Linked DNA regions of Homo sapiens: all the other regions are linked to region 1. Evidence: fine-mapped expression QTL. A gene starts in region 1. Each other region holds a variant in brackets. All regions are shown on one strand. Distances are from middle to middle. Region 1 holds the start of SLC44A5 (solute carrier family 44 member 5). Region 2 overlaps SLC44A5 (solute carrier family 44 member 5). Region 3 has its middle 35 kb from the start of LHX8. Region 4 overlaps SLC44A5 (solute carrier family 44 member 5). Region 5 overlaps SLC44A5 (solute carrier family 44 member 5). Region 6 overlaps SLC44A5 (solute carrier family 44 member 5). Region 7 overlaps SLC44A5 (solute carrier family 44 member 5).

Region 1 (4,068 bases):
TAAGTGTAAAACTTATGTTTAGGTTAATTTATTCATTTATTCATTTAGCACATATTTATTGAGCACTGAATATGTACCAGATTCTGTGCAAAACACTAGGGATACGGTAATGAACATGATAGACAATGAAGTAAGAGGAGGCCTGGAAGAAGCAGGTGACAAATAATATGAACCAGAAAATTTCACATAGTGATTAATACCAGGAGAAATAAAACAAAGTGATGTGCGAGCAAATGATTTTGAGGTTACTTTAGATTGTCTGGAAAGGTGGCATTTGTGTCGGGAAACAAGTGATGAAGAGTAATTTGCATGCCAAGAACTGGAACATAACACTTCAGGCCTTAAGGTAGAAATGAGGTGGTAGCTTGGCACATTCACATACAAAAGGAAGAGGTGTAATGTGTAAGGAAGAGACAGTTAGGGAGAAGCCAGGCCTTTTTGGTCATAAAAAGGAATATAGAGTTTAAGTGCAATGAGAAGCCATTGGATATTCACTTGCTATTTGGGGATACATTCCTCTCCTGGAAGATTATTTCAGGGAGAGGAGCATTCCTACATCAACTCCCTAGGCCAACTAAGGTGACCTAATAGACTTCACTTTTCTAAAAGGTCCAGTTATACTCACGTTATTTTCTCTTGCTATTCACCAGAATACCTATGCAATTTCAGGCTGAGATATTGATAGCATCTCTAGGAATCCCTGCTTAGAAAACAATTCTAGAGAGAATGAGGATTAATTTAACATTTAGTACAAGATGATAAGATTAGTCACTTCCCTGGCAAGCCTTTCAATGCAAGTAAGTCTTAGGAAAAACATATTGTAATGGTAGAGGGGGATTCTGAGGGGTCCAGAACATGACTGTGCAGTAGGCAGAATGTGGAAGGCAGCATGAGGGGCTCCTAGATAACAGAAAGGGGTCCACAGAAGGAGAAGAGTGATGTTTGGAAGGGGACATGAGAAAGCCTCTAAAACAACATCAGCCAATTCGTGATTTTGCCAAGTGGAAGCCTGATATGAGCATGTTCCAAGAGAAACATTCTCATTCAAACACAGAAAAAGTTTAAACCAGGGTACTTTTATGCTTTTGACTGATCTTTTTATAATGAAGCATTTGTAACAATAAAAGCACACAGATGTTTACAAAGTCTCTTTGATTTTACTTAATCACTGTCAGGTTGTTCTGATGGATTACAGACCTCACAAATGAAAATAGCATGAACATATTAATGATAACTGCTGTTTGTTGGAGGTAGTTGCTTGATAGCTAGTTAAGGAAATCATGCTCTTGGGTCTCATTTTACTGTAGAGATGTTGGTAAGTGGGATATGGGGTATATTGGATGATTTTCTTTCCCCTAAGCATTTGTGACAAGAAGGTGCTATGATATTCAGGAAAGACACAAATAATAGTAGATTATTTTAAAGGTAATCATGGCCTACTTCCACCTCCAAACTACCTACTTCTTTGCCAAGGATTAACAATGAAAAAATATACTATAGCTCCAGGACTTTGTTCAGTCTCCTCCCCCTCTTTATACTCCAAGTGACTCCTTTGAGGCTAGCAAGGCTAGTAGGACCTCAGGGATTACCTAAGAATGGGGTATGGCCCTTAGTGATACTGGAACACAATGTGTTTATGACATCAGCTTTTTTTTCACAGTAGTGAATCGTAGCATGTTAGAGTTAGAAGGTTCAGTGTTGATGGAGTTATTGAAGAAATGATGGAGTAAGAGGTGAGTGATACTGCTAAATGCAAGAAGTCTATGTCTGTAGGAAAATTGGTCAAGTTTGTTATTCATAAGTACGTATTCTATACAACTCAAGAAATACACACACACACACACATATATATAGTGAAGTCTGAATATAAATTAGGAACTGAGCACTTCCTCTCCGTGTGTGTGTGTGTATATATATAGATATCCTGGGGGATTATTTAAAGAGAGTAGTATTTTTACATCAGCTCCCTAGGCCAAGTAAGGTGACCCAATGGACTTCACTTTTCTAAAAAGTCCAGTTACACTTATGTATCTTCTCTTAATATTCACCAAAATATCGACAATATTTCGGGCTGAGATGTTGATAACATCTCTAGGAATCCTTACCTACTGGTATTCACACCTGTTCATACTCCCCTTCCAAAATGAATCACAGCTGACCATGTGATCAGTACTGTACAGCAGAAAACTACATCATAAAGACATACACTATGGCTTCTGCCTTGTTCTTTTGTATTCTTTGCTTTCTTATGTTGCTCATTTTGGGGAAACCAGATGCCATGTTTTAAAAATACTCAAGGATCCCTTGGATTATTTTTTGAAGCAGAGGTTCATACAGATATTATTAACATTTCAGCCCAAAATATTGTCGGTATTTTGATGAATAGTAAGAGAAGATACATAAGTATAACTGCACTTTTTAGAAAAGTGAAGTCCATTGGGTCACCTTACTTGGCCTAGGGAGCTGATGTAGAAATATTGCTCTCTCTAAATAATTCTCCAGGATATCTATGTGTATATAGGTATATGTATGTATATGTATATACCTATGGAGAGAGAAGAAGAGCTCAGTTCCTAATTTATATTCAGACTTCACTATGTGTGTGTGTGTGTGTGTGTGTGTGTGTGTGTGTGTGTATTTCTTGACTTGCATAGAAGTCTTGAATCTTAGCTCTGTGTGGGAAGAACTGAGGCCTCCTGCTAATAGCAACAACTTGCTAGTTATGTGAGTGATCTATCTTGGGAACAGACCCTGCAACCAAGTCAAGCCTTCAGATGACTGTAGCTTCAGCCAACATCTGACTGAATTTCATGATAGCCCCGACCCAGAGCTATCCAATCAAGCTGCTTCTGGATTCCTGAATCACAGAAACCATAAGATATAATAAATGCTTACTCTTGTCTTAAACCACTAAAATTTGGGGGTAATAGGTTACATAACATTAGATCATGAATATACCTGTGGTTCATTATTTTTGCACCTCTATCATGAAATGTAATATTTGTTACTAGTTCCAACACTGATCTTGAATCTTAGCCCTCTTTCCTATTTAGTGAATTGGGCTGAAACCCTGAAGTTCTCTTTTCTTGTTTCCCTTGAGTTTCTTGTAGCAGCTTGCTTTCTCCTCTGCTTTTTTGAGTACTGATTCCTGGCTCCTCTAGTTCATTTAGTTTAGAAGATACTTTCCAAATTGAAGCACTACCGAACCAAAAATCAGAGTGATAAAGAGAATACAAAAGCCCTAAAATCTCCCAACAGCACAAGATTTCACAGTCCTCCAAACTAAGAAGATAGAAAGTTTCTTAAAATCTACAATCTTTTATTCTCACCATCAAAAATAAGAATGTAAGGTAATGAATATGTTAAATAGCTTGATTTAGCCATTCCACAATGTGTATATATATCAAAACATCAGGTTTCACACCATAAATATATAAATTTTTACTTGCCAATTAAAAAAGAAAAAACCCAAAGAAATGAAACCCTAAAATATTCAAATAAAAACCTTTCCAGCTGTATTTATCTATTCCTCCTTACCAAAGAATCCCTTCCTCCTCCCAGCCCAGTTAGTCCTTTGAGGTATAAATAGGAGACTGAGAAAGAGGATTTAAGAAAGGAAGGTTGCCGTCTCTTCTACTTGAGAGTAGGATATTAATCTATTTTATTCGTTCATGTAGTTCTCTATTCATTCAATAAGTGTTAATCAATCGCTTACTATGTACTGGGCACTATTCTAAGCATGCTTGGGATAAATCAGGGAACAAAATGAATTCTTCATGAGGTTTACACTATACATAGGGAAGACAAACAATGAATAATAAGCATGAATACATTGTTGATATTAAAAATTGAAAAGTGCCATGACAGAAAGAAAAAAAAATGAGCATAGTAAGGGGGATTTGGATTGCTAATCATGGGATGATGGTGGGCCAGCTGCAAGTATTAATAGGGTGGTTAGGGTAGGACCAATTGACGAGGTAATATTGAAGGACATGAAGCAGTGGAAGGGGAGGAGACTTCCAGAAGGAAGGAAAAGCCAGAGCAAAGACCCTACAGTGAAAATATACC
Region 2 (4,068 bases), 160 kb after region 1:
TGTTTTGTAGCTCTCCTTGTAGAGATCTTTAACCACCATGGTTGGATGCATTTCTAAATATTTTTGTGCTATTATTTTAATTAAAATTATGTTCCTGATTTGGCTCTCAGCTTGAATATTTTTGATGTATAGAAATGGTACTGATTTTTGTACATTTATTTTGTATCCTGAAATTTTACTGAAGTTGTTTATCAGGTCTAGGAGCCTTTTGGGGGATTCTTTAGGGTTTTCTAGGTATAGAATTATATTATCTGTGGGGAGAGAGTTTGACTTCTCCTATTTGGATACTTTTTATTTATTTCTCTTATCTGATTGCTCTGGCTAGCACTTCTAGTTCTATTTTGACTAGGAGTGGTAAAAGTGGGCATCTTTGTCTCTTTCAGTTCTCAAGGGGAATGTTTCCAGCTTTTGCCTATTCAGTATGATGTTGGCTGTGGGTTTTCATAGATGGCTCTTATTATTTTGAGATATGTTCCTCGAATGCCTTGTTTCTTAAGGGTTTTAATCATAAAGTGAGGTTGGATTTCATCAAAGCTTTTTCTGCATTTATTGAGATGACCATATGTTATTTTTATTTTTAATTCTGTTTATAAGATGAATCACATTTATTGATTTGCGCATGTTGAACCAACTTGTATACCAAAAATGAAGCCCACTTGATCATGGAGAATTACATTTTTTAATGTGATGCTGGATTCATGTTGCTAGTGTTTTGTTGAGGATTTTTATATCTGTGTTAATCAGGAATATTGGCCTATAGTTTTCTTTTTTCGTTGTGTCCTCACACACATTGGGATCAGGGTGAGGATGGCTTCATTGAATGAGTTAGGGAAGAGTCCCTCTCCCTCAATTTTATGGGATAGTTTCAGTAGAATTGGTAGCAGCTCCTCTTTGTATGTCTGATAGAATTTGGCTGTGAGTTCATCTTGCCTAGGGCTTCTTTTCATTGGTAGCTATTTCATTACTGATTCGATTTCAGCACTTGATATTGATCTGTTCAGGATTTCAATTTTTTCCTGATTCAATCTTGGGAGAATGTGTGTTTCAAGGCATTTATACATTTCCTCTAGATTTTCTAGTTTCTGTGCATAAAGGTATTCAGAATAGTCTCTGAGGGTCTTTTGTATTTCTATGGGATTGGCTGTAATGTCATCATTGTCGCTGGTGATTGAGCTCGTTTGTATCCTCACTCTATTTTTCTTTGTTCATCTAGCTAGTGGTCTATTGATCTTGGGTATCCTTTCAAATAAGCAACTTTTGGTTTCATTGATCCTTTGTATCAATTTCAAAGGGTCTCAATTGGGTCTCAATTTCAATTAGTTATTCTCTGATTTTAGTTATTTCTTTTCTTCCGTTAGGTTTGGGGTTAATTTGTTCTTGTTTTTCTAGTTCCTCTAGATGTGATGTTAGATTATTAATTTGAGATCTTTCTAACTTTTTGATGTAGGTGTTTAGTACTGTAAACTTTCCTCTTAACACTACTTTTGTTGCATCCCAGACATTTGGTTATGTTGTGTCTCTGTTTTCATTTTATTTCAAAGAATTTATTGATTTCTCCATTACTTTAATTGCTTACCTAGAAGTTATTGAACAGCAAGTTGTTTAATTTCTATGTAATTGTGTGGTTTTGAGAGATCTTCTTGGTATTGATTTATATTTTTATTCCACTATGGTCTGAGATAAAGTATGAGTTCAGTTTTTGAAAATTTATTGAGACTGCTTTATGATCAAGAATGTGGTCCGTCTTGGATTAATTTCTGTGTGCAAATGAGAAGAATATATATTCTGTGGTTGCTAGATGGAGTATTCTGTAGATGACTATTAGGTCTAATTGGTGAAGTGTTGAACTTTTAGTCTAGAATTTCTTTGTTAGTTTTCTGCCTTGATGGTCTGAATAGTGTTTTTGGTGGGAAGCTGAAGTCCCTCACTATTATGTGGCTGTTTAAGTCTTTTCATAGGTCTAGAAGTACTTGTTTTATGATTCTGTGTGCTCCAATCTTGGGTGCATATAGATTTAGGATAGTTACATCTTCTTGTTGAGTTGAATCCCTAATAATTTTGTAATGCCCCCCTTTGCCCTTGTTTGTTGCTAGTTTAAAGTCTGTTTTATCGGATGTAAGTGTAGTGACCTCTGCTCTTTTTTCATTTGGATGATAAATCTTTCTCCAACCCTTTACTTAGAGCCTATGGGTGTCATTACAAGTGAGATAGGTCTCTTGAAGGTAATAGACAGATGTGTCTGGTTTACTTATTCAACTTGCCACTCTTTGCCTTTTAACTGAGGAATTTAGACTATTTACATTTAAGATTAATATTGATATGTGAGGTTTTGATCCTATTATGAAGTTGTTAGCTGGTTGCTTTTTACTTTCTATTGTGTGGGGGCTTTACAGGGTCTGTGGGCTCTGT[A/G]CTTAAGTGTGTGTTTGTGGTAGCAAGTATCATTCTGTCATTTCCATGTTTAGAGCTCTCTTAAGGATCTCTTGTAAGACTGATCTAGTGATAGCAAATTCCCTTAGTGCTTGCTTGTCTGGAAAAGATTTTATTTCTCCTTTGTTTATTAAGCGTAGTTTGGCAGGATATGAAATTCTTGGTCAGAATTTCTCATCTTTAAGAACACTGAAAATAGGCCCTCAATCTCTCCTGGCTTGTAAGGTTTCTGCTGAAAAGTCCACCGTTAGACTGACGGAGTTACCTTTGTATGTGATCTGACCTTTTTCTCTAGCTGCCTTTAAGATTTTTTCTTTAGCATTGACCTTTGACAGTCTGGTGACTATATACCTTTGTGGGGTTTGTTTTGTATAGTATCTTACTGGTGTTCTCTGGATTTCTTGTATCTGGATGCCTCCCTCTCTAGCAGAGTAGGGAAATATTTATAAATTATTTCCTCAAATATGTTTTCCAGGTTGTATCGCTTCTTGGCCTTTTGGCTAAGATCAAGTGTTTTCAAGGTTGTTTACTTTTTCTCCTTCTTTCTGGAATGCCAATAATTCATAGGTTTGGTTGCTTTAAATAATCCCATATTTTTTGAAGACTTTGTTTACTTTTTAAAATTTTTTTTAAAAAAATTTTGTCTGACTGATTTAGTTAGAAAGATCAGTCTTCAAGTTCTGAAATAATTATTTCTTTTTCTTGGTCTAGTCTCTCAATATAGTTTTCACTTATATTTTGAAATTCCTTAAGTGAGTTTTTCAATTTCAGAAGACAGAATGCAATCTTTTAATGATGACACTACCTTCAGATTTTCCATGGTGCCAGAATTCTTCAGCTGGTTGCTTCTCATCTGGAGATGCTATTAGTTTTAATTTTTGTCATTGTTTTCATGCTGGTAGGATTTTTTATTTTTTTCTTTTTGTATAATATTATTATTTTTTTGTTCATTTTCCTATCCCTTCCCTTCCTAGGGAGTACGATGGTAGAGAATGCTGGGTAGGGTTCTTTGGTTTTGCTTCTATAGCCTTATGCACATTTTTTTGGCAGGTATTATATTGGGCTGTGCAGTTCAACCTACAAGCCCATAGATTGTGCTTATAGGTAAGAATTGGCTGCGGCTAACATGTCTGGGTACTTACTTGATCCTTATTTACTAGCAAAAGCTCTTTGTTGCCTCAGATAATGGGCCAATTCATGGAATGCATAGTGGTCTGAGCTCCCTGCTCAGCTCTGGTGGGCAGTGGAGGCCATGATGGGCAAGACCAAGATGGCCCACCTAGAAGTCGCCTGCTGGCAGGCACAAGCACCAGTCCCAAGGGAGAATCCAGTGGGTAGCTACCAAGTGCTTAGAGGTGTGCCTAAGCATGCAGCTGGGAAACCTCCTTGGCTCCAACTTCCTTGCCTGGGGTTGTGGGGTGAGCTGAACTCCTAATCCAAGACAGTGGATGCTCCAGATGCCTAAAGACCTGCTTGGATGTGGAACAGAGAAGGCCTTGCTGTAACACACTCTAAGTCAGGAAAGGTGGGGTGGCTCAGGAGGCTGGACCAGTTGAGTGGATGCCCCAAATACCTGGAGTTCTGCCCATGCATGAAGGAGGGAGGGCCTTCCTGTACTAGGATCTTTGCACAGGAAGAGTG
Region 3 (4,068 bases), 440 kb after region 1:
GATGTTGGCTACCAAGTGTACTCACTCAAATGATTAACTCACATTTTGGCAACTGCATAATGCCAAATAACATTTTGGTAAAAGATTTCATGGAATTAAAAAAAAATCAACAAAAGGAATTTTGGTGTAAACAAAATAGATCTAATTATTCTAACTTTTTGACCTGCCAGGGCTGGTTAAGCTCTGAGCGTGCCTTAAGTTGGCTTGTTCCCAGGCCACCTGCCTCCCTCATTCTCAACTTTCACTGTATCATATGTGGTGAAAAAAGAAATTAAAGACCTGAGTTCAAATCCCAGCCCACCAGGTGAGTTATTTGGCCGTGCTGAGCCTCAATTGTATCATCTGTAAAGTGGGAATGATAATAATATACCATGCGGCAATGTTGTAAAGAGTAAATATAGTGTACTTTAAGCCCCCAGCTCACAGCAGACACTAGAAAAATAAACAGTAGATTAATGAGAGCAAATATGGTGTGAATTAGCAACTCCCTCCTACAGTCTCAGGGTTTCTCAAAGTGTGATCTCTGACCATCTGCTGCAAAATTCTTCCAGGAAGCTTAGGAGAGACAGAGACTTCTGATCCTTACCCCAGATGTGACAAATCAGAATCTCTGAGACTGACCATTTCTAATACCTCCCCAGTCTCCAGTTGACTCTTGAGTATCTTAAAATTTGAGAGCCACTGAATTACAGCCTGATTTAAAACTTATTATCCTTTTTAGTCATTGGTTTGTAAAGAAATAGATAGCTCATGTGTTTCAGTGATTTTTAAGCACTCTGCAGTTCCTGTGTCCCAAGGTCCACAGGTTCTCTTAACAATTAAATAATATGGTCAGTTTGGGAAAGCTTAAAAAGCTGATCAAAGTAGTTTATAGGGAAGCTGGCTTTGTGTTTGTTTTTGCTTTTGTTTTTGTCTTTTTTGCTTGACTTGCTGGCCAACTGAGCAACTGAGTGATTTTGTGCTATGATTTAGGCCCAGTGGGTGGCACTTACCTAACTCCCTGGGTTAAAGAGTTAATATTAAACAGAATTTTATATCACTTACTCATTTAGCTTGTTAAAATTTCAATTACCATACAAGGTGACTGGTCTAAAATCCACAGGTTCTTGTACTCGATAGTCCAAAAGAAATCGTAGCCCAGAAGCACTGAAGTCTTGAGTTTTCAGCTGAGCAGAGAAAAATGATTCAGCAGGCATGACAGTGTGGATTCATGTTAGCATAGAGGTAAGAATCCAAACAGCACATAGTGGCCATTTCTCTGGCAACATAGACCTGGGGTATCTGCTGAAAAGGAAAAAATGGAGCTGGCAGAGCTGGCATAGCTGGCAGGCTCCTAGAGTGTTCATCCAACAGTGGAACCAGGGTAGCACCATGAAGCCTGAAAAGTGAGCCAGTTTCACTGGCAAAGACCAGGAGTTCCCCCTCCACATTTGTGGTGCCTTTATTAAATGGGACCCACAGCTGAGTAGTGATATGGAGAACTTGGAGTAGGGCCACGAAAGGCAATCAAGATCAATCAGGCTTCTGGGGAATAAATTTTTCAAGGGCTTGGCCTTCTCCAGACCAGAGCAATGGAGCTGTGGGCTGGCAGAGTGAGTATGCAGGGGAAATCAACAGTTCATTGGGATGGCTCAGTGATAGTTTAAATATTTCTACTAAGAACATCAAAAGAAAGGGCTTGAGCTGAACTTCAGCAGAAATTGGGCTTGAAATTGGAGTACGGTTTGTGAGGGAAAGGGTTATCCTGTTCTAGGGAAAGCTCTAGAGCCCCTTTTCCACTTCAGAGCACCCACCCACCTCCAC[C/T]GCCCACTCTCCTCATTCACACCTCACTTCAGTAGCCACCACTTCTTGACGTAGGGTTGACAATATGCCAAATACTGTGCTCAACTGCATTATATTTAATATCTCATTTAATCCTCAGGGTAACCCTGCAAAGTGGGTAGTGGTGTGCTCATTTACAGAAGAGAAACAGGCTCCGTGAGATTAAGCAACAAGGCCATGCAGCCAGAAAAATGGCAGAGTCAAGCTGTCTCATTCCAAATCTCATAAACACTACTTTATCCTGCCCACTTGCGTATAGCTTGGGAGGCCAGTGTGACTGGAAGCAAGAGAGCAAGTGAATGAGTAGGGGAGTAGGGGAGAGGGTAGGAGATGAAGGCAGAAAGTAATGGGGTGCATGGGTGTGAAGTGGCCACCCCATGAAAAGTGCCCTTCAAGGCCACAAAGGATGTTACATTTTCTTCTTAATATGAAGGAAAGCCACAGGGGGGGTTTCAACAGAAAAGTTCTAATTTAGGTTTTAAACACATCTTTTTGAACATATTTTAGGGGGAAAGGGGTGGAAGCCCGGAACAAGTTGTGTAGGTATTTTAATAGTCCAGGTGGGAGATGATGTTTTGCAGTAGGTAGGAATGGCAAAGATGTGGGGAAGCAGGTAAATTCTAGAGACATTTCAAGGGTAAAACAAGCAGCATATGATGAATTGGTAAGTGATATGCCCACGGTTACATAGGTAGTAAGAGGCTGGACTGGAATTGGAACCAGGCTCTAACTACTTGAAAGCAGACCCTGTGAGCTTTCCACAAACTACAGTGAGCTGTGGTCATAGCTTCTGAGAAAGGGATTTCAGAATTCCTGCACCTGAGGCCAGAACAGGAAAAGCTCCCAGTGTGTGAAACATATGACTGAGTTATGTGTTTCCTGTGCGTCCTCTCTCTTTAAAAAAAAAGAGGGGTTGACAGCAGATTATCCAGGACAAATTGAAAACAATGACCAGGCCAGGTGCAGTGGCTCACGCCTGTAATCCCAGCACTTTGGGAGGCTGAGGCAGGTGGATCATCTACGATCAGGAGCTCAAGACCAGCCTGGCAAACATGGTGAAACCCCATCTCTACTAAAAAACAATGTAAAAATTAGCCAAGTGTGGAGGTGGGTGCCTGTAATTCCAGCTACTTGGGAGGCTGAGGCAGGAGAGTAGTTTGAACCCAGGAGGCAGAGGTTGCAGTGAGCCGAGACCACACCATTGCACTCCAGCCTGGGCAACAAGAGTGAAACTCTGTCTAAAACAAACAAACAAACAGAAAACTATGACTAGATACCTATCCGACCATTCTGGCCCACTTTGAAGGCTAATGAAGCAAGGTGTGCTGATGGCCTAGACAGCTACTGCGGGCAGAGGAAAAAGAAAACTTTACATTTTAACCTATATTAGACAGAAAATGGGAGGAGCCATTCGAGAGAAATAAAAAGACTCTGCAGCCACATTTACACAGTAAAAGCCAAATGGAAGATTGAGCAATTACCCAGTAACTGCAGGCTGGGGAGTCAGCCAATTTGGGTAACTCAGATAAAAACATGTGTTTGGCTGCTTCTCTTGCCTGAATTACTCGATAATGACCCAACCTGTCTGTTTTGCTTAGTCGAAGAGAACAAGAAACAGTTCCATCTGAGGCAGAGAACTTCCATGGGCCATCGTGTAGCCCAGGCTGAGGAGTTGCTGGGGAAAGGCTGTCCCTGGGATCCTGGCATGGAGTAAATTAACCATGGCAAGAGACTGCTCTGTCAATGCCCTGTGCTAGCTCCTAGAAACCCTAACATGAATAGTCTAGGGTCTCTAGTCTAATCTTGAGACAAAACTGAGGAAGGAAAATTATAATAAAACTTATTAAAGTGTAGAGATATCCTTTGAGGAAATGATGGGAACACAAAGAACTCACCCACATTGGGGTGGGGTGTGGGGAACAATCAGGGCAGGCTTCCTGGAGGGGATGATATTTGAGCTTGGTCCTGGATGATGAGGAATTGTTAGTCAGGAAAAGAGAAATGGAGAAAGGAGAGGGAAAGCTAGTGAAAGATGGTGGCATTTTTTTTCCTCTGGTGTTAGGAGTTAGTTTACCAAGGAATAAATACAGATAACTTTCAGGGTTTATTGTGCACCAGATACTTTTCTAAGTACTTTATATGTACTATCTTATCACAGGGTCACAATAACCATTTGGGAAAAGTGCTATTATTAGTCCATTTTGCATATGAGAAAACTCTGGCACAGCGCAGTTTAATAACTTGCCC
Region 4 (4,068 bases), 210 kb after region 1:
CAAAGCCAAGCAGGTGGGCTCAGGAAAGGGGAATGGAGCCCTGGGCAAAGCAACTAAGGCAGAAGCCCAGACTTTCACATTGATGAGCCCAACACAGGGGGTGAGGGAAAGCTGCTGACAGTGACAAGAATGCTAGAGCAACTCAAATGTTAAATGAGTGCAGGGACTCATCCCTGGCACCTGAAGCCCAAAGAGTGAATAGAAGTAAAGGTCGTACTTAAAAATGCGTAACCTTTGGGTTTGATTCCTGAAGATTCTACCTACTAGTTATGTATTCTGAGTACTAAAAAATAGGCTCTGTGAGAAGGACCCATGCACTTCCATTTCAAAGTAACTATTTTTAATTAAAATAATTTTTATTACTGTAAGAGCAGGTTTTATACAATTACAGATTCAGGGATACATGTGCAGGTTTGTTATGTGAGTATATTGCATAATGCTGGGGTTTGGACTTTTATGGAACCCATCACCCAAATATAGTGAACATAGTACCTAATATGTTGTTTGTCAACCCTTGTATCCCCATCCTTTCCTCTCCTTTCTTAGAGTCATGAATGTCTATTGTTTTCATCTTTATGTCTACATATTCCCTTGGTTTAGCTCCCACTTGTAAGTGAGAAAATGTGGTGCTTGATTTTCGGTTTCTGTGCTGATTCACTTTGGATAATGGCCTCCAGCTTCACCCACGTTGCTGCTATGGACATGATTTCATTCTTTTTAACAGCGGCTTAGTATTCCATGGTTGTGTATGTACCACATTTTCTTTATCTAACCTACTGTTGGTGAACACTTAGGTTGATTCAATAACTTTGGTATTTCGAACAGTTCTGCAATAAACATATGAGTGCAGGTATTTTTTTGTAAAAAGATCTGTAGATTGCTTATAAAAGCAGTTTTACATGCATTACAGAAAGTCAAAGAAAACATCAAAGTAAAATTTAACTAAATAAAGCAACATATTTTAATCACCACTGATAAAACCGTTCTTATATTTCCTTCCAGATATACAATTTTTTTACAATAATGAGATTTTGCTTTTACATGCTTTTTGCTACCTGCTTTTTTTCTGTTAAGATTTTCCATCTTTCCATTACAACAAATGTTAAATTTAGCTAATATTCATTCTAATTCAGATTGCCCCAATTGTCCCCCAACACTGTATTTACCACATTCTGTCCAAATCAGGGTCTAATCCAGGGCCAGACCTTGCATCTGGTAGCTATGTCCCTGAAGTCTCTTCTGATTAGCACACTCCCCTTTTCCTCTGACACTGACCTATTGCCCTCGAGAATATCTCACTTTCTGGATTTGTTTAGTTCCTTTCCAGTGATTTCATTTAGTTTATTTATCTTCTTTATTTCTTATGTGTAGGTTAGATTAAATATAAATCATTGGTGGTGGCTCCTGTTGGGTATTTTCAGCCAGAATACATACTAGCTAGGTATGCCGTATAAACTCTATTGCCTTACATCAGGAGAAACAACATCCGGTTGACCCATCATTAGTGATGCTGTGCTTGATTATGGGTCTAGGGTCTTGCTTCTTTTTAATAAGGTCTCAGGATGACACAATAGGAGCAGGACTCACATCAATGCGTTCCACTCATTGCTACCCCCTCCTCCACCTCCATCTCCTACCAGTTCTCATCCCCCTGAACAGACCTTCCAAGCAAGAAAGACAAAAGGGAATGAAGTGTGGTAAAAGGCCCAGCAATAAAACTGGAAAGTATGACTCTTTTGGCTCCTAGTCTGAAACTTCATTCTAAATTTACTATACTAGATATAAGCAGGCAGGGTGAATGTCCAAGAACTTCTCTCACACTAGATTCCAGTCTTCCCAGTTGTTGTCAAGGTCAAAATAGTATGGCTTTGGTATCTTA[C/G]GCAGACACCAGAAGGCAGCCTACATAAGATACGAATGTTCTCCTAAACAAGTTTTGAAAAAGACATAAGCTGTTACAGAAAGCAGGCTCAACCATCTTGTAAACTGATCATGCCAAAATATGAACTTTGCTTTTTTTGATTCATTATGCAAAATTGAGAAAGAGGAGTCAAAACTATACTGTATGGAATTTAGCCTGGGAGATGGAGACCACCTAGATCCTGCTTTCTTTGTTTGCTTTGTTTGTTCCTTAACCAATGACAAGGTACAACGTTGGTCAAATATTTTCACCAGCCTAGTTTCAGTATTCTCAAGTGTAAAATGGGGTATATGATACAGTGTATGGTTGTTAAGAGGATTTAACTTCATCTGTGAAACACCTACATTATAGTAACTACCAGTTCCCTTCTCCTCTCATTGGCAGGGTCTGAGATTACTGACATGCTTCCTGCTATACCCGGCACTGATTCCAAATGGGACTGGGTCTGCAGGTGAAATTTACTAGTTTATATAGCTGAGGGAGCTGGAGAAAATTGGAGTAGAGGGCTGGAGGCAGAGGCTGACCACTGTTATTATATAAGCTAAAATGTGATTAGAAGTGCATGATACAAAAAGCTATGACATGTAACCTTTTAAGATAACCATGAACCTCGAATTTTGTTGTTTTTTAAAAATGTATTCGGAACATTAAAGGCAAACTCAGTCATTTAGGGCCCAGGAACAGGAAAAAGGTAGTCCGTATTGTATCTTGACATTTTATTCATTTTATTCTACCTCTCAGGTGCCAATCCTTGCACGTACATACTATTTTAAGAAAATCAGCAAGGGATGGCCATTTTATATTTTGGGCACTTCATTTAGCTTTTTAAATGGTAAGTGTGAAACCTGTATGTCCCTAATAATGCTTACCATCCTAATGAATGTGGGTCAGCATTGCTAGTTTTAAAGGTGTGTGTGTGGTGGTGGGGAATATCCTGAAAATGTTATGAGTAATCTTTATTTTTCTCATACATTTGACATTACTGGAGGCTAGTAGTTATATTGATTACAAATGGACTCTGGAGCACACAGACCTAAGTTTGAATTCCAGGTTCCCCACTTACTAGCAGTGTGACTTTAAACAAAGATTAGACCCAAAAGTTCACGTTGCCTCTGGGAACCTTGGATTCTCATTTTTAGAAGTGAACCGATTATTGTAACTACTGCAAGGCTTGTTGTGAATATTAAATGAGATAACATAAATGAAACATGGCACCTGGTGCATAGTAAGTGTTCAAAAGTTGGTTACTATTTTAATTATCGTTATTATTATTTTTCCCAAAGGAACACAATTTACAAATGTTCGCTTTCCCTGGAATCTTTACCCCAACTCTGACTCTCAATGATTTGCTACTGTTAGTCCGATTGATGAAAAATCAATGGGGAAACCAAGCATTGTAATCTCTGCCCATGAGGTCTATAGACGGAATTCTTTTCAATAGCTCTAATTAATGAGTTGGCAAGTCTGATAAAGCACCAGAGAATGGGGTGTTCATAGAAAGCATTAGTGTTTTTGTTTAACATATGTGACACTTGAAGCATTAGGATGCTGTTATTGTTCATTATGGCACGTGCCACCTCCCCATTCCCCAAAATTACCATAATTTGTACCTTCCAAATTGAATAGAGTCATTCATAGTTATCACATGGGAGTTTCTGTTAAAGCTAAAGGCCACACGTAGTGTGATTAAGGTGGGACTGCTGAATTCAAAATATATCTCTTTTCCCTAGGCTACACTGGCTATTCTGCATGTAATAAAAGGTATTTAATGCATATTAAGTTTTTCATGACTAATGTGTCTTCTGAAGTTTAAAGCAGGAACAGAAAATGAAAGTAAACAAAATGCCTCATTTCTTAGTAATGAATTTTTCAAGTCTCTACATATCACCTACATTATACAAGTCATAGATGCAAATGGAAGAATTAACAGCTTTATTTCATCATCCCCAAACCTCTTACCTCCAGCACCTTCATGAATTATTTTTTTGGTAACTTCTTAAGAATAAATGCTCATTATTGGCAGCTTTGTGTATAAAGAATTACTTCAACCAGTCCAACTGCCTTATGTTATTTTGTGTGTTAGTCTAAAGACTAAGATTTTTTAGGATAAGGAGAGATGTGTATAGAACCTCAGAGTCATCAGCCCCTAC
Region 5 (4,068 bases), 220 kb after region 1:
ATCTTTCTCACAAGGTTTATGAGATAAATAAGCTAATGAGGAAAAACACTCCACTTCTGATATAAAGTAGCCCAAGGAGAGAAGTACCACTGAGTGCTGCTTCTGCTTGAATGGACAGAAGTAAAAGAAAGAGGAAAGGTTCAATATAGGATATTGTACTATGCCATTTCCATTCTCCCAGACAAGGTATTACTGGGATAACTCTGCTGAGTCATGGCCCAGGAGGAACTGTTGGTTTTGCATCCACTAAAAGTGCATCTCAGCAGAGGGAAACACTCCCAGATCCTAAGATCTGGGGTGCACTCAGTATTCAGGGGTGAGTGGATAAACAGGCCTTGGATTTCAATTGGGTGGATGATGGCATTTTTGTCTTTTCTTTTTGGTTCATTCACTCCACATTTACACTTCTTTTTAAGAGCCTGATATTAAAGAAAGCTTAACTGTGCTAACAATGGGGGTAAGCTTGGGAGAACTGGAGTGTTATTGGTGTTAACCCATAGGACACATTCTTCAACAGCCTTGTGTTCCAAAGAAGCTGAGGCCCACCAAAGCCAGTGGCTCGTTTCACTTCCTCTTCTGTTACAGGGAAGGGTTGACCTCATCCTTTCCAAGGCTCATAGTACCTCTATCAGCATTGCCTCTTCAAAGACTTTGCTCTTGCAATTATCCCCTCTCTCTCTTGCCTACATGTAAATATGCCTTAATACAGCCGCCTGAAATTTATTTAAAAAAAATGATCAATTAACCCTTTCATCACGCTAAAACTCAAAAGAATTGTTTATAGGCATTGACTCCACTTTTCTCCTATTCTCTCATTAACCCACTCCAACTGGAGTTGTATCTGCATTACTTCATGAAACAGTTTTTTATCATTTCCACAGACTTGTATCTTGCTCTTCCATTACAGAATTCTTTTCCTCACCTTACTCTCTCTCAGCAGCATTTAGCATGCTCAGCCACTCTACTTTTTTAAACTTTCCTCTTCTGCTTCCAAGATACCACACTCTCCTGGGTTTCCTCCTGACTCTCTGATCTCTCCTTCTCTGGCCAGTCGCTCACACTTAAAGTCTGGGTGTTGGAGAGCCCCCAGGATGCATTTTCTCTGACTTTTCTAGGTAATTGTATCTGATCCCATAGTTTTAAATACCATGAATGTGCTGTTAAGTCCTAGATTTACATCTCTAGCCCTGATTGCTCTTTCTTGCCCTGGACTTATTTATTTGACTTTATACCCCACCAAATCTGCTCTTGTGTCTACCTTCCTTTCTCTAATAAGGGCATCACCACTCACCATCTCCACTAAATTGCTTCATTCAAACAACTGTTATTTCTCAGTTAGATACCTACCATTACCTCCTAACTCATTTTTATCTGCAGCTATTACCCTACTCTGGTCTATTCTCCACAAAATAATCAGACAAATCTGTTTATAATTACAGTTCCTATTTTCAAAATCAAGTTGTGAAGTGAGCAAATAAATAACCAACTGCTATTTAAAATGCTCAAAGCACAATTCTAATGAGTCAATATTACTTTTTTCATTTATCACATTTTATCTAATTTATAGTACATAATTATCAAACCACAAAAGCAAATATATTAGCCTAAAGTACAGTATGCCATTTTGGATATTGGCTACTTTGCCCCTACCAATTTGATTCTGACATGTCAAAATCTTTATTTATAACCTAACATAAACATATATTACTTTAAAGTATACAGGATAAAGAAGAGTTTTTAACCCTTTGTAATAACATAAAACATGATTACATTGTCATATGTATACATATGTATGGGCATATGTGTATGTATACAGAGAGTCTTTTTAAATGAGGTATCAATACTTGTTTCATAATAATCCTTCAAATAACACTTCCTTAGCCAAATCAAAGAAAGTTGAGATGGCTTTCCAGCTTTTTTAGGCAAAGATCTGCATGACATGCGAGACAATGAAAACAGTGTTTAGATATTTTTCTATCTTATTCTTTGAATTTCAAATTTTATTTTAGATTCAGAGGGCACATGTGCAGGCTTGTTACAAGAGTATATTGCATGA[C/T]GTGAGGGTTTGGGATAGAACTATTGAGGTAGAATCTGTCACCCAAATAGTGAGCAGAGTACCCAATAGGTTGATTTTCAACCCTTGTCCCCATCCTCACTCCCATCTTATAGTCCCTAGTGTCTATTGTTCCCATGTTTATGTCTGTATGTACCCAATGTTTAGCTCCCACTTATACGGGAAAATATGCAGTGTTTGGCTTTCTATTTCTGCATCAATTAACTTAGGATGATGGCCTCCACCTACATCCATGTTGCTTCAAAGGACATAATTTCTCTCTTTTTGTGGCTGCATAGTATTCCCTGGTGTATATGTACCACAGTTTCTTTATCCATTCCACTGTTGATGGGCACCTAGTTTGATTCCATATCTTTGCTATTGTGAATCCTGGTGCAATAAACATACAAGTGCAGGTGTCTTTTTGGTAGAACAATTTCTTTTCCTTTGGATATATACCAAGCAATGGGATTGCTAGGTTGAGCAGTAGTTCTATTTTTGCTTCTTTGAGAAATCTCCAAACTGCTTTCCACAGTGACTGAACTCATTTACATTCCTACCAACAGCATAAAGAGTTCCTTTTTCTCTGTGTACTCACCAACATCTGTTATTTTTTAACTTTTTTATAATTACCACTCTCACTGGTGTGAGATGGTATTGCTTTGTGGTTTTGATTTGCATTTCTCTGATGATGCATGATGTGAAGCATTTTTTTCGTTTGTTTCTTGGCCACTTGTATATCTTCTTTTTGAAGTATCTTGTCCACCTTTTAATGGAATTGTTTTTTACTTGTTTGGTTAAGTTCCTTATAGATTCTGGATATTAGACCTTTGTTGGGTGCATAGTTTGCTATTAATATTTTATCCCATTATGTCAGTTGTCTCTTTACCTGTTGATAGTTTCTCTTGCTGTGCAGAAGCTCTTCAGTTTAATTAGGTCCCACTTGTCAATTTTTTTTTTTGAGACAGGTTCCCATTCTGTCCCTCAGGCTGAAGTACAGTGGCGTGATCATGGCTCACTGCAGCATAGACCTTCCTAGGCTCCAGTAATCCTTCCATCTTGGCCTTCTGAGTAGTTGGGACTATGTGCCACGATGCCTGGCTAATTTCTATGCTTTTTGTAGAGATGGGGGTCTCACTATGTTGCCCAGGCTGGTCTCAAACTTCCAGACTCAAGCAATCCACCCATCTTGGCCTCCCAAAGTGCTGGGATTACAGGTGTGAGCCACTGTGCCTGGCTTAATTTTTTTGTCGTTGTTGTTAAAATTGCTTTTGTGGACTTAGTTCTAAATTCTTTGCCAAGACCAATGTCTAGAAGGTTATTTCCTAGGTGGTGTTCTAGTATTCTTATAGTTTGAGGTCTTACATTTAAATATTCAATCCATCACGAGTTAAGTTTTGTATATGGTGATAGGTAGGAGGTCTAGTTTCTTTCTTTTGCATATGGATAGCCAGCTACCACAACACCATTTATTAAACAGGGAGTCCTTTCCTTATTGCTTATTATTGTTGGCTTTGTTGAAAGTCAGTTGGTTGTAGGAGTGCAGCTTTATTTCTGAGTTCTCTATTCTATTCCATGGGTCTATACGTCTGTTTTTATGTCAGTACCATGCTGTTTTGATTACTGTAGCCTTATAGTATAGTTTGAAATTAGGTAATGTGATGTCTGAAGTTGGGTAATGTGATGCCAACTTTGTTCTTTTTGTTTAGGATGCTTTGGCTATTTGGGCTCTTTTTTGGTTTTATATAAATTTTAGATTAGTTTTTTCTAATTCTGCAAAAAATGGTGTTGGTGGTTTGATAGGCATAATGTTGAATCTGTATATTGCTTTGGGCAGTATGGCCATTTAAACAATATTGATTCTTCCAATCTATGTGCAAGGAATATTTTTTCATTTTTTCATTTGATTGTGTCATCTATGATTTCTTTCAGCAGTGTTTGGTAGTTCTCCTTGTAGTTCTCTATTTTACACCATTGGTTAAATGTATTCCTAGGTATTTTATTTTATTTTTGGC
Region 6 (4,068 bases), 240 kb after region 1:
GCAGTTTTTGTGTCCCTGGGTACTTGAGATTAGGGAGTGGTGATGACTCTTAAGGAGCATGCTGCCTTCAAGCATCTGTTTAACAAAGCACATCTTGCACCGCCCTTAATCCATTTAACTCTGAGTTGACACAGCACACGTTTCAGAGAGCACGGGGTTGGGGGTAAGGTTATAGATTAACAGAATCTCAAGGCAGAAGAATTTTTCTTAGTACATAACAAAATGGAGTCTCCTATGTCTACTTCTTTCTACACAGACACAGTAACAATCTGATCTCTCTTGCTTTTCCCCACATTCCATTGCTGATACCCTTTCTTCCAGTTGATAGCATCGACTCCTGAGGCTTCTTCATTCTTCACGTAGTTCTCGAGCCTTGGTTTTCAGCTCCATCAGCTCCTTTAAGCACTTCTCTGTATTGGTTATTCTAGTTTTACATTCTTCTAAATTTTTTTCAAAGTTTTCAACTTCTTTGCCTTTGGTTTGAATGTCCTCCCGTAGCTCAGAGTAATTTGATCGTCTGAAGCCTTCTGCTCTCAGCTTGTCAAAGTCATTCTCCATCCAGCTTTGTTCCATTGCTGGTGAGGAACTGCGTTCCTTTGGAGGAGAGGCGCTCTGCTTTTTAGAGTTTCCAGTTTTTCTGCTCTGTTTTTTCCCCATCTTTGTGGTTTTATCTACTTTTGGTCTTTGATGATGGTGATGTACAGATGGGTTTTTGGTGTGGATGTCCTTTCTGTTTGTTAGTTTTCCTTCTAACAGACAGGACCCTCAGCTGCAGGTCTGTTGGAGTACCCTGCCGTGTGAGGTGTCAGTGTGCCCCTGCTGGGGGGTGCCTCCCAGTTAGGCTGCTCGGGGTTTAGGGACCCTCTTGAGGAGGCAGTCTGCCCGTTCTCAGATCTCCAGCTGCGTGCTGGGAGAACCACTGCTCTCTTCAAAGCTGTCAGACAGGGACATTTAAGTCTGCAGAGGTTACTGCTGTCTTTTTGTTTGTCTGTGCCCTGCCCCCAGGGGTGGAGCCTACAGAGGCAGGCAGGCCTCCTTGAGCTGTGGTGGGCTCCACCCAGTTGGAGCTTCCTGGCTGCTTTGTTTACCTAGGCAAGCCTGGGCAATGGCGGGCGCCCCTCCCCCAGCCTCGCTGCCGCCTTGCAGTTTGATCTCAGACTGCTGTGCTAGCAATCAGCGAGACTCCATGGGCGTAGGACCCTCTGAGCCAGGTGTGGGATATAATCTCGTCGTGCGCCGTTTTTTAAGCCGGTCGGAAAAGCGCAGTATTTGGGTGGGAGTGACCCAATTTTCCAGGTGCGTCCGTCACCCCTTTCTTTGACTTGGAAAGGGAACTCCCTGACCCCTTGCACTTCCCAAGTGAGGCAATGCCTCGCCCTGCTTCGGCTCGCACACGGTGCACACACCCACTGACCTGCGCCCACTGCCTGGCACTCCCAAGTGAGATGAACCCGGTACCTCAGATGGAAATGCAGAAATCACCCATCTTCTGTGTCACTCACGCTGGGAGCTGTAGACAGGAGCTGTTCCTATTCGGCCATCTTGGCTCCTCCACGATTCAGTGGTAATGAATTTTCTTAGTGATTGCTTGTTCGGGAAAAATTGTCTTTCTCCTTCTGTTATGAAAATTAGTTTGGTGAGATACAAAATACTTGGTTGGTATTTCTTTACTTCAAGAATGCTAAAAATAGGCCTCCAGGTCTATTCTGGCTTGTAAGGTTTCTGCTGAGAAGTCCACTGTTCACCTGATGGGGTTCCCTTTGTGAACAGTGATAGAAAAGTGATATGACCCTTTTCTACAGTTGCCTTTAAGATTTCTTTTCTTGTTGACTTTGAAAATTCTGATGATTATGTGTCTTGAGGAAGGTCACCTTGTATAATGTCTCACAAAGATTCTCTGAATTTCTTGAACTTACA[T/C]GTCAACTTCTTTCGCAAAATTGGGGAAATTGTTGTGGATTGTATCCTCAGATATGTTTTCCAAGTTGCTTACTCTCTCTTCTCTCTCAGACATGCCAGTGAGTCACACGTATAGTCTCTAGAGGGTTTGTCTATTTTTAAATTATTCTTTTTTATTTGTTTTTGTCTGACTGAGTTGATTTGGAAGACTGATCTTCAAGCTCTGAAATTCTTTCCTCAGCTTGGTCTAATCTGTTATTAAGACTTTCAGCTGTATTTTGAAATTTCTATAGTGAAATTTTCAATTCCAGAAGTTGAGTTTGGTTCTTACTTAAAATGGCTCTGTTGTCTTTCGATACTTGGATCATTTTTTGAGTTTTCTTGGATTGGGTTTTAATTTTCTCTTGAATCTCGTTGAGCTTTCTTGGCCATCCATATTCTGAATTCTATGTCAGTTGTTTCAGACATTTCAATCTGGTTAGGATCCATTGCTGGAGAGATAGTGCAATCCTTTAGAGGTAAGGAAACACTCTGACTTTTTAAATTGCTAGAGTTCTTGCACTGATTGCTTCTCATATGAGGGGGCCAGTATTTCTTTTTGAAATTGCCGTCATTTGGATGGGACTTTTTGTTTTTATAATAATTTTTGTGTTTGACTGTGGTGTATGTTGTGTATAGTACTGGCTTCATTTCTATGTGCTTTTAGAGGGCCAAGGCTGTGTAGAGTTCCTCAGTTGTGGATCCTTTCCTGCATGGGTCTCCAGGCATTGAGCGCTGAAGGGATGTATTTTTGCTTCCCGGTGTGATTCAGGTTGCAATCCAGTAGATAGTGCTTAAGAGTCAGGGCTGGCAGATAGGCTCTTAGCCACATGCCTCTTGTGTGTTTCAGTGCATGTGCAGCGGTGCCCTGGGGAGGGGAATGGGGGGCAAAAGATGACTTCCTCACCAAGTTTGTCTACAGGCCTTAGTGGAGTACCCTGCAGTTACTGGCATCACGCCTGCATTTCCTTAGCATCAAGTGGGGCTTTGGTGGGCTACCTTCTCCACACCTTCTTAGGTGTGGTCTGTGCCAAGTGTTAGGTCACCAGGAGACCCACAATTCCCTGGAGACCTACTGGTCCTCTAAGCCTGGCAGAGTCCAAGGAGGTTGTGAGGTATGTCTGCAGGTAGTCTGGTGATTCAGTGGGTCAAGAGTGGAGGATCCTGAGGGAGAGTGGTGGTACCACAGGTATTCAGCTTGTGTGTTGACTGTGGCCAGGGATTTTAGCCCAGAGGATGATTGTGGGACCTGCTCAGCTTGCACCCCTTCTACTGGGTCTCCCTCTGATGCCTGCGTAAGAACAGGCCCAACCAGCTAGACTTGTCCCAAGCCTTCTGCATTCAGGTCACTTGCTGTTCCAAAATGTTCTAGGCTGCAGGGCTCCTTGGGGCAGAAGCTGCAGCTAACAGGCTACACCCTTTCTGGACTGGTCTGGTGGAGGGAGGGATGACCAGCTCCCATGCCACCACATGAGCACAGGCCACACTCCCTCAGTGTTCTGAGAGTGGGGGCTCCTCCCCAACCTGAGCTCAGGCCACAGATCTCAGCTTGATGCCCCTGGGTAGTGTGCTTGAATCCTGGGGGGTAGGGACTCGGCCAGTAGTTTTGTCCTCTGAACCCTCAGGGTTGAGTGCCAGCTGTGCTGGGGGAGTTTAACTCCTCCCAGACAGCTGGCAAAACACTCAGGTGGGGCAGTAGAGGCTGTGCTGTGGGCAACCTCCTGCAGGAGTAGCCAGGCAGGTTGTCTTAGGAGGGACTGGTGGACAAGGCAGCGTGTGGATCAGATGTGCCCTGCTCCTGCAGGAAAGGCAGCCTTGCTCTCTCCTGGCCGAACAGTCAGCAGGAGCTACAGTCACTCAGAGCAAGATAGAGAGCCTTCTGGGATAAATGCCTGAAGTCACGTTTAGTTGCTGCTGCACCACGTGCCACCTTGAAACCTTCAGGGTTCTATGCAGGTTCAATCTCTGCCTCTGTCTGGTCTCTAAGAAGTTCCTCCTGCCAATTCAAATGTCTGTGGGGGTAATGGGATCTCTTGTCTCTAGGATCCCAGAGGGTTGTATTTGGGGTGTGGTGCCTTGGAGTTCCTTTACTCACCCCTTCCTTAGGACCTGTTGAGGGCCAGGAGCTGGTCT
Region 7 (4,068 bases), 150 kb after region 1:
TATAGTTTCCAAGATTCTTCTTGTTGTTGATTTCTAGTTTTATTCCATTGTGTACAGAGAAGATGACTGATATTATTTCATTTAAAAATATTTTAAGACTAGTTTTGTGACCTAACATAAGGTCTGTCATTGAGAATGATCCATGTGCTGATGAACAAAAAATGTGTATTCTGTAGCTCTTGGATAAAATGTTCTGTAAATATCTATTAGATCCATTTGGTCTATAGTGCAGATGAAGTATGATGTTTCTTTGTTGATTTTCTGTCTAGAATATCTGTCCAAGGCTGAAAGTGAGGTGTTAAAGTTTCCAGCTATTATTGTATATTGTACTGGGGCCTCTCTCTTTCTTTAGCTGTAATAATATTTGCTTTATGTATCTGGGTGCTCCAGTGTTGGGTGCATATATATTTAAAATTGTTATATTCTCTAGCTGAATTGACTCCTTTATCATTATACAGAGACCTTTGTCTCTTCATATAGTTTTTGTCTTGAAATCTATTTTGTCTGATACAAGCATAGTGACTCCTGCTGTCTTTTGGTTTCCAATAGCATGGGATATCTTTTCCCATCCCTTTATTTTCAGTTTATGTGTGTATTTTTTGTAGGCAACAGGTTATTACTTCTTTTTTTTCCCATCCATTCAGTCAGTATATTTTGACTGAAGAGTTTAGTCCATTTACATTCAACGTTATTATTAATAAATAAGGACTTCTGTCATTTTGTTCTATGTTTTCTGCTTGTTTTGTGGTCTTTTCTTCCCTTTCCTTCCTTTTAATGAAGGCGATTTTCTCTGGTGATGTGATTTAATTTCTTGCTTATTTTTTGTGTATCCATTGTATGTTTTCTGGTTTGAGGTTACCATGAGGCTTGCAAATACTATCTTATAACTCATATTTTAAGCTGATACCAACACTGTTTCATAAACAAACAAGCAAAAAGAAAACAAATAAAGACTCTATGCCTTAGCTTTGTCCTCCTGCTTTTTACCTTTTTCTTCTTTCTTGCTTTTTTTTTTTTTTTTTTTTTTGAGACAGAGTCTCACTCTGTCGCCCAGGCTGGAGTGCAGTGGTGCAATCTCGGTTCACTGCAACCTCCACCTTCCAGGTTCAAGTGATTCTCCTGCCTCAGCCTCCCGAGTAGCTAGGACTACAGGTGCATGCCACCATGCCCAGCTAATTTTTTGTGCTTTTAGTAGAGATGGGATTTCACCATGTTAGCCAGGATGATCTTGATTTCCTGACCTCATAAACCTCCTGCCTTGGCCTCTCAAAGTGCTGGGATTACAGGCATGAGCCACTGCGCCCGGCCTCTTGTTTCTATTTATATCTTATTGTGCTATGTCTCAAAAAGTTGTTATTGTTTTTGTTTGGTTCATTGTTTAGGCTTTCTACTTAGGATAACAGTAGTTTACACACCACAGTTACAGTGTTGTAATATTCTGTGTTTTTCTGTGTACTTACTATTACCAGTGAGTTTTGTAACTTCAGATGATTTCTTATTACTAATTAACATTCCTTTCTTTCTAAGTGAAGTACTCCCTTTAACATTTCTTGCAGGATGAGTCTAGTATTGATGAAATCCCTCAGCTTTTGTTTGTCTGGGGAAGTCTTTATTTCTCCTTTATGTTTGAAGGATATTTTCACCAGATATATACTATTCTAGGGTAAAAATTTTTTCCTTTATTGCTTTAAATATATCATGCACTCTTTCCTGGCCTGTAAGATTTCCACTGAAAAATCTGCTGCC[C/T]GACATATTGGAGCTCCATTGTACGTTATTTGTTTCTTTTCTGTTGTTGCTTTTAGGATCTTTTTTTTTTTTTTTTTTTTTTTGAGACAGAGTCCCGCTCTTTAGCCCAGGCTGGAGTGCAGTGGCACAATCTCGGCTCACTGCAAGCTCCGCCTCCCAGGTTCACGCCATTCTCCTGCCTCAGCCTCCCGAGTAGCTGGGACTACAGGCGCCTGCCACCGCGCCCAGCTAATTTTTGTATTTTTAGTAGAGACGGGGTTTCACCGTGTTAGCCAAGATGGTCTCGATCTCCTGACCTTGTGATCCGCCTGCCTCGGCCTTCCAAAGTACTGGGATTACAGGCGTGAGCCACCGTGCCCAGCCAGGATCTTTTTTTATTAATCCTTGATCTTTGGGAATTTGATTGTTAAATGCCTTGAGACAGACTTCTTTGGGTTAAATCTGCTTGATGTTCTATAACCTTCTTGTCCTTGAATATTGATATCTTTCTCCAGGTTTGGGAAGTTCTCTGTCATTTTCCCTTTGAATAAACTTTCTACTCCTATTCCTTTCTCTACCTTCTCTTTAAAGCCAATAACTATTAGATTTGCCCTCTTGAAGCTATTTTCTAGATATCGCAGGTGTGCTTCATTTTTTTAAAAAAATTCTGTTTTCTTTTGTCTCTTCTATGTATTTTCAAATAGCCTGTCTTCAAGCTCACTAATTCATTCTTCTGCTTGATCATTTCTGTTATTAAAAGACTGTGATGCATCCTTCAGTATGTCAATTGCACTTTTCAGCTCCAGAATTTCTGCTTGATTCTTTTTAATTATTTCAATCTCTTTGTTAAATTTTTTCTGATAGCATTTTGAATTCCTTCTCTGCGTTATCTTGAATTTCATTGCATTTCCTCAAAACAGCTTTTGAATTCTTTGTCTGAAAGGTCGCATATCTGTTTCTCCAGGACTGGTCCCTGATGCGTTATTTAGTTCATTTGGTGATGTTGTGTTTTCATGGATTGTCTTCATTCTTGCAGATGTTCATCTGTGTCTGGGCATTGAAGAGTTAAGTATTTATTCTAGTCTTCTCAGTGTGGGCTTTCTTGTACCAGTCTTTCTTGGGAGGGCTTTCCAGGTATTCTAAAAGACGTAAGTGTTGTGATCTAAGCTGTATTTGTTTTAGGGGGTACCCAAAGTCCAGTAACACTGTGGTTCTTGCAGACGTGTAGAGGTGCCACCTTGATGTTCTTGGACAAGCACTGGGAGAATTCTTTGGATTACCAGGCAGACTCTTGTTCTCTTCCCTTACTTTCTCCCAAACAAACAGAGTTTATATCTTTGTTCTGAGTCAACTGGAGATGGGGGTGGAGTGACATAAGCACCCTTTGGCTACTACCGCTAGGAATGTCCTGGGTCAGACCTGAAGCCAGCACAGCACTGGGTCTTGCCCAAGGCCTGCTTAACTACTCCCTGGCTATGGCCTATGTTTGCTCAGTGCCATAGGGCTCTACAGTCAGCAGGTGGCAAAGTCAGCCAGGCCTGCGTCCTTCCCTGCAGGATTGTGATTTTCTCCAGGACCCAGGAGGGTCCATAGGTGTTGTTTGGGAGCCAGGAACTAGAGTCAAAAACCTTAAAAGGCCATCTGATGTTCTATTGTACTTTCCATTTTTCCCTCCCCTTTCCAAAGGCAGAGGAGTCTTATCCCATACCCACCACCACTCCAGGCCATGAGGAGTACTGGCAGATTACTACCAATGTTCCCCCTAAGGCCCAAGGGCTTTTTAGTCAGCTTATTGTGAATGCTGCCTGGCCTTGGACTCACTCTTTAGGGTAGTAGGCACTCCTCTGGCCGAGAGCAGTTTCAGAAATGCTATCCAAGGGTTTGCTTTGTATTTTTATTGGACAGTGCTGGCCTAGACAGTAACTCAATAATGAGAATTTTATGTTTTCTTTTGCTAGGAAAGAGCTATTTAGTCACCGTGGCTAGCAAAATTTGGTGACTTGGTTGACTTGGACAAATGGGATCCTCAAAACACAATTAAATATATCTAATGTCCTGAGACACACCACTCATAATAATATTAATAGTTACTCCAGTGAACTAATAATATTATTTACCTCTTTGGATTTTATAAGGATTCAATTAAGATAACACGTGTGTGAAGGTTGTGACCTAAATAATATTATCTTACAGGGAGAAAGGTGCATGTGAAAATTGTCAGAGATGAAAATGGTTAGGGAACAATTTTAAAACTATTTTCATACCTGATGTATAGTAGTAATGTGCTCGATTATCTGTGGAATTAATTTGATCATCAGAGAAGAGATCTCTTTTGGTTTATGT

The links. PIP is the estimated chance that this variant, and not a neighbour inherited with it, causes the effect.
Region 2: its variant is the best candidate, but not a certain one, in a credible set for the expression of SLC44A5 in esophagus mucosa (GTEx, PIP 0.65).
Region 3: its variant is the best candidate, but not a certain one, in a credible set for the expression of SLC44A5 in whole blood (TOPMed, PIP 0.86).
Region 4: its variant is the best candidate, but not a certain one, in a credible set for the expression of SLC44A5 in activated CD8 T cells (Schmiedel 2018, PIP 0.60).
Region 5: its variant is the best candidate, but not a certain one, in a credible set for the expression of SLC44A5 in liver (GTEx, PIP 0.57).
Region 6: its variant is the best candidate, but not a certain one, in a credible set for the expression of SLC44A5 in whole blood (INTERVAL, PIP 0.63).
Region 7: its variant is the best candidate, but not a certain one, in a credible set for the expression of SLC44A5 in whole blood (TOPMed, PIP 0.88).

The regions. Positions count from the first base shown.
Region 1 is chr1:75,608,705-75,612,772 of GRCh38, reverse strand. SLC44A5 (solute carrier family 44 member 5) reads left to right here and starts at 1,659. Exons shown (of 24, transcript NM_001130058.2): 1 at 1,659-1,733.
Region 2 is chr1:75,450,797-75,454,864 of GRCh38, reverse strand. The region is part of intron 2 of SLC44A5 (solute carrier family 44 member 5); the gene reads left to right. Among named protein-coding and RNA genes, the nearest start is that of SLC44A5, 160 kb to the left of the region's middle. The variant A/G (reference allele first, on the strand shown) is at 2,410.
Region 3 is chr1:75,167,234-75,171,301 of GRCh38, reverse strand. It overlaps a transcript of LHX8 not described here. Among named protein-coding and RNA genes, the nearest start is that of LHX8, 35 kb to the right of the region's middle. The variant C/T (reference allele first, on the strand shown) is at 1,804.
Region 4 is chr1:75,396,656-75,400,723 of GRCh38, reverse strand. All of the region lies in intron 2 of SLC44A5 (solute carrier family 44 member 5), which reads left to right. Among named protein-coding and RNA genes, the nearest start is that of SLC44A5, 210 kb to the left of the region's middle. The variant C/G (reference allele first, on the strand shown) is at 1,880.
Region 5 is chr1:75,391,096-75,395,163 of GRCh38, reverse strand. All of the region lies in intron 3 of SLC44A5 (solute carrier family 44 member 5), which reads left to right. Among named protein-coding and RNA genes, the nearest start is that of SLC44A5, 220 kb to the left of the region's middle. The variant C/T (reference allele first, on the strand shown) is at 2,057.
Region 6 is chr1:75,373,312-75,377,379 of GRCh38, reverse strand. All of the region lies in intron 3 of SLC44A5 (solute carrier family 44 member 5), which reads left to right. Among named protein-coding and RNA genes, the nearest start is that of SLC44A5, 240 kb to the left of the region's middle. RefSeq lists enhancers at 1-306, 307-1,088, 1,089-1,872, 717-1,916. The variant T/C (reference allele first, on the strand shown) is at 1,918.
Region 7 is chr1:75,461,181-75,465,248 of GRCh38, reverse strand. The region is part of intron 2 of SLC44A5 (solute carrier family 44 member 5); the gene reads left to right. Among named protein-coding and RNA genes, the nearest start is that of SLC44A5, 150 kb to the left of the region's middle. The variant C/T (reference allele first, on the strand shown) is at 1,747.